Regions from separate parts of the Homo sapiens genome. Here region 2 is linked to region 1. The links come from fine-mapping of genetic effects on gene expression. Tissue or cell type: pancreas. Region 1 holds a variant in brackets; the other region holds the start of a gene. All regions are shown on one strand. Distances are from middle to middle.

The links. PIP is the estimated chance that this variant, and not a neighbour inherited with it, causes the effect.
Region 2: NAV1 starts here. The variant in region 1 is fine-mapped to the expression of NAV1 in pancreas (GTEx, PIP above 0.99).

What each region holds. Positions count from the first base shown.
Region 1 is chr1:201,712,280-201,714,958 of GRCh38, forward strand. It overlaps NAV1 (neuron navigator 1), which reads left to right. Exons shown (of 34, transcript NM_001389617.1): 6 at 538-640. All of the region lies in intron 2 of IPO9-AS1 (IPO9 antisense RNA 1), which reads right to left. Among named protein-coding and RNA genes, the nearest start is that of MIR5191, 5.9 kb to the right of the region's middle. RefSeq lists enhancers at 650-1,338, 1,182-1,476. The variant C/A (reference allele first, on the strand shown) is at 1,253.
Region 2 is chr1:201,537,929-201,540,607 of GRCh38, forward strand. NAV1 (neuron navigator 1) reads left to right here and starts at 1,199. Exons shown (of 34, transcript NM_001389617.1): 1 at 1,199-1,414. It overlaps LOC124904484 (a long non-coding RNA gene), which reads right to left and starts at 2,217. Exons shown (of 2, transcript XR_007066793.1): 1 at 2,091-2,217.

The DNA.
Region 1 (2,679 bases):
CTCTTCCTAACTCTGTGGTCAGTGACATCAGATTGGTAGATTGAAAGTGGCCATGATAGGAGGCTTTATACCAGGGAAATTGGCAAACACCACACATCGGTGTCCCCTTCCTCCGAAAGCCAGTTGTTAAACATTTACCAGCACAACCCTGGATAGGGGGTTTCAGGCAGATGTTCCAGCTCATCTCAACCACGAGAAATCTTGCCCAGGACCTCTGCTATGAGAAGCAGGGCCTCCCCAAAACAAAGCCAGAGGTAGAGGCAGTTCCTTGGGGGCTCTGAAAGGAGTGCACAGACACAGAAAGCCATGCCTGTACCCCCTGCCAGGATCTGGGGTTCAGAGGGCTCAATGGCACATGTCCAGGGCCTTTGAGAGGGCCCATTCTGTTGGTTGTCTTTGGGAAAGGGAGGAGGAAGGTGACTATCATGGCCCAGGGACTAGCCTCCTGGGGACACTGTCAATCTCCACTTCCTGACCCCCAGGATCCCAGCATTAAGTTCTCTTCACTCACCCAGCTCTTCCTTCTCTCCCTACCAGACCCAGAGTCCCAGAGAAAGAGGACAGTGCAGAATGTCCTGGATCTCCGGCAGAACCTGGAAGAGACCATGTCCAGCCTGCGAGGGTCCCAGGTGACTCACAGGTAAGCTCGAGCTGCAGAGAGGGTCATGCCCTCTGCCTTCCTGGCTCTCCACCCCATTCTGGAGGGCAGGGCCCCCGGGTCCCTCCACACCTCTGCCAGGTCAGCCAGGTGGCCTGATGCGTGGAGCCACTGCAGAAGGAGGAGGAAATCCATTTATCTCAACAAGAGAAGCTTGGCTTTGTCTTCTGTCTGCTTGTGCCTGAACATTTCATTTCATTTCAGCAAATCAGCTTGAAAATCACTAGCTTAGGAGCCAGGAAGTGGAAGCCATTACACAGCTCAATGTGTGATCTTTGATAGTCAGTCTCCTTCATTAGACCTCTGTCTCCTCAATCTGTCAAGAGAAGGTTTACTAAATGCTCTCTTCCTGTTCCTAAGTCTCCATTAAACTAGGGGTCTAGAATCAATTCCCTTCTCAACACCTGGGTCTTTTCACTCTTGTGTCAGTTAGGTGCCCCCTGGCCTCTTCTACGAGCCACTGAGGGAGGCTTGAGTGCTCAACAGGGCCCACACAGTGTCACCCAGCTCCATGCCCTGTTAGGTGTGTCCCCCTAGCCCACTCCCTGCAGAGACCTCATAGCCTCCAGCTGCATGGGGCACTCAGCCTTCCCA[C/A]GGCACCTCTCTCTGGAGCAAAGTCCTGGCCACAGGCTCTGCTGTGACTCAGAATTTCCCTTGCTGGCTCCTTGGACTGCCCAGATGAGCTCATGCTGTCAGCTCCAAGTGGGGCAGAGGGCTGGGCTAAGCTCTGGGGACAGCGGGAGGCAGAACAGACAGCCAGATTGGGAAATCATGGGGGGTGTGGGGCAGGAAGGCTGTGTGAGGGCTAGGAAGCCTCCCCAGTTAGACTGGAAGTAGATTCCTCTCCAACTCCTGGGGCTGGAAAATTAAGAGCAAAGTTGGGACACAGGGGCAGTGGAAAAGGACTTTCTTTAGCCCAGGGTGTGGCCATTTGGGATTCTGAGGATGGGACCACACCCATGGACATATTTACATACCACCAATGACAAAGAACTCATTACCTTTCTTTTTTTATTTTTAACATAGGCTTTTTAAAAATATTTTGTTATTATTTTTAAAGACCGAGTCTCATTCTGTCGCCCACTGCCTCAGCCTCCCGAGTAGCTGGGATTACAGCTGTGTGCCATCACGCCCAGCTAATTTTTGTATTTTTAGTAGAGATGGGGTTTCACCATGTTGGCCAGGCCAGTCTCAAACTCCTGGCCTCAAGTGATCCACACGCCTTGGCCTCCCAAAGTGCTGGGATTACAGGCGTGAGCCACCGCGCCCGGCCAACTCACTACCTTTCAGTCACCCCGGTGCATTGTGGGATTGCAGCAACTCTGATGTGGAACTGCACTTAGTCTTAAGTAGCTTTCAGCCGTTGGCTGTAGTTCTTCCTGCTTAGATGACCCTTCTCCTTCTCCTTCCTTGTACTACTCCTCCCCCTATCCCCAGCCCATGCCCGCATCTTGGACACTCAGCCCTTTACTCCCAGACATCTCGAGTATTTTAAATGGTAAGATAAATCAAAACTCTCTGGGGATTACCTCTGCTCAGGCCAGCAGAACCCTGACTACTGAAAGGGAGGTGACCAAGGAAGTCCTGGAAAAAGGTGGATGGTGGGGGCTCCAGGACCCCCTTACATCTGTCCCTTACTGCCATCCCTCATAGCCCCAAGCCCCCAGCAGGAGCCCAAGTGAAGCAGGGATCTGGCAGAGCTTGGCTTATCAGTTTAGGACCCAGCGGATGAAATCTTGGACATCTGCCTTCCCCCATCCAAGGAAATTGTTGGAACATCTCTCAGCACCAAGTCACCCACCAGCCTCATGCCAAAGACACCAGAAAGTGCTTAGTTGCTGAGAGGGCCACACCCCAAATGACTCACTCACAGGAGTAGGAGAGAAGTAGCAGCTCCAGCCTCCTGGTGCCACTGACTCAGAGCAGCCAGCCCCCAGTCCCTCCGTTAAGCCGGACAGCTTGACCCTAGGCAGGCGCTATTGGTTTTCTGCTTCTAGTGGGAAAGGGGAGGCTTCAATCAA
Region 2 (2,679 bases), 170 kb before region 1:
TGAATGTCACTGCTTGTCCATTGTCTGGTGTCTCATCTCTCCAAATTCAAAGCCACTGTGGCCTTACTGACTGTGTGGGGCGTTCAGGGAGGACTCAAGGGCTCTCATCCTGACTCTGCTCACACTGATTTTGCTGGCAAAGAGCTGTGAGACCTCCCAGGGAGTAGGCAGTTTTGCTTTCTATCCATCAGTCCTCCAACTTGCAACCCCATGGCCCTGGGAATAGATCAGTCCTCTTATTTGTTGGCAGGAGCAGGGGAATCTGCTGGGTCCTTGGCCACAGCTACTCCCTTTCCAAAGCCTGCTTCAAAGCTCAGGTCATCTGGCTTCCTTCTGCCTTCTTCCTGCAGACCCTGGAAGTCCCCAAGCCAGGAGGCAGGGGGCTTGCACTGCTTCTGCAGTAGGTTCTGGCTGAGGGCCTTCCTCCCATTCACTCTCCTCAGGTCCTGTCATTTCCTCTCTCCTCTTCTTCCCCCTCCTCCCACTCCCAAGTCCCTGGAAGAAGGAGGAGGGGCATCGGCTGTCTGGAAGGTGGGGAGAAGTCACTTATTTTACTGAGCACCTACTATTTGCGGGGCACTTGCGGGGCCTCCCCCTCCTCTAAGACAGCTCAGACAGCATGACAGTTCAGTGGGGTGGAGAAAGAAAGGAGGTGGGTGCCCGGGGTCAGAAGTCGGGTGGAGAGGCTGGCCCATCCATCTGTCCCCTTCTCCTAAAGAACTGCGGCTGAACCAGCGAGCGGTACCCGGACGACATGTGGGGGAGGGAGGAAACCCGGCCTGGAAGTGGCGGTGGCGGGTCCCCGGGCAAAGGAAAGGCTCAATTGTGCAAAGGCTTCCTGCCCTGCCAGCTCGCGGGTCCGCCACCGAGCAGCCGCCTTTCTGCGGCCAGCCTGGGAGGCGGGACGGGAAGGCGAAGGCAGCAAAGGGTTACGGGAATAGCTTTCCAATGACAAAGTCTGGAAGGGACCCATGCCTCCGCCCCTCTGCGGGTTAAACTGGCACAGTGCAGGGGGAGGAAAGCCAGGGCGATCGGACGGATTCTCTCCTCCTGCCCGCCCCCCGGCCGCCAGGCACTCCCCTCCTGGGCCCGCCGTGGAGGCAGCCGGCGTGTGCCTGGGGCAGCGGGTCACGAGGCTCCGCCCCGGCCGCCGTTCCCGAGGGGACGGCACTTTGTTCAGGATGCCGCCTCCCTCCTCATTGTGGGGCCGGGGCCGGCGGCTGCCCTAGTGCGGGGCCCGAGGCTGGAGTGCGCGGCGGACGCCAAGCCTGGTGCGAGGGGCCGAGGCGGCCTGGGGAGCCCCGGGAAACTTTGTGCTCGCGAGAAGCGGACCCCGCACCCGCGCTGCCCTTGGGGATGCGCGACTCTGCGCGGCTGCGGCGCGGACCCGGAGCCCGGGCGGGCAGGCGCTCCGGTGAGTGGCCGGCGCGGGGCGGTCGCGCGGTCGCGGCGCTGAGGGTCTGGCGCTTCCCGTTTTGCGAGGCTTGGCTGGCAGGTCCTGCGAGGCCGAGACCAAGTCTCGGGGTAGGGGAGGTTGGTGCCCGAGGGAGGCTGTGGGCTGGGCTCGGGAGAGGCGCTGGAATAAATAACAACCAAGATGCTCGCGGCTTCCCGGGAAGGTGTGTGCCCTTTCGACCCCTATGGGACTGACTGCGCGTTTGATTCTAGAGTTGACTCTCCGGGGGGGCTGCCTAACTTCAGTCCCTCTGAGCCTCAGTTTCCTTGTTGTGAAATACCCACAATTTAAAGTGCGTTGAGATCTTATCATGAGACACCAGGTGCTGCGTTCTTATACTCGCACCCACACGGCAAGCACACACCCTACCCGCACCTCTGCCTTTCGTTGAAGCAAGAGTTAACTCCTCCCATCCCAGCAGGAGCCAGAGGAACAGCTGGGGCAGGTGACCTCGCGGGCCGTTCCAGAAAACGTTCCCCGCACCCCCGGGATGCGCCGGGAAGCGCCCTCCCGCCAATCTCCCGGAGGCCGTCCTCTCTGGCGCCCGCCCAGTGCGTCTGGGAGCGGAGAAAGTGGTCCCGGAGGAGAGGGGAGAGAGGAGAACGCAGAAATTGGGTGATCACGGGGAGCTCACCTGAGCGCTCCCGAGGCTTGGGCTCTGGTCCCTGCTAATCCCCAGAGCCGATAAAAACTGGTCATAGGATAAAGAAGCAGCTAAGTTTGCAGCGGGCAGAGGGGAGGCAGGAACTGGAGAGGACGCGAGTGGCGGGTGGCGGGGGCGGTGTGTAGGGGTGACGTCCACCCGGCAGAGAGGGTTCCTTGTCCCCTGGAGCCGAACACAGGAAAATCAGCTGGTGAGTCAATGGGACTTTGTTAGGATAGTCACAGGGCGCAGCTGGCGCCGGCTTAAGGGAAGAGCTGGATCCCCCCTTGATAACATGCTGTTTATCTGGCTTCCTGTTTCAATGATTGGGATACCATTGGCTCGTTCAAATTCAATGCTGAGAAGCCTGTGGGCACGTTCGTTCACTGTGCAAAAGCAGAGGGCTTGCCTGGGTTTTCATCTGTGGGCTAGCTCTTGTTCCCCCTACATGAAGTCCCCGGCAACTCACTTGTAATGGGACTGGAGACTTCGCAAAAAGAATGGCCTCCCCAGGAGGAGGATCTGACGATCTGACACTGCAGAGACCTTGGCTTCCTTTAGGCCAGAGATATATATGATT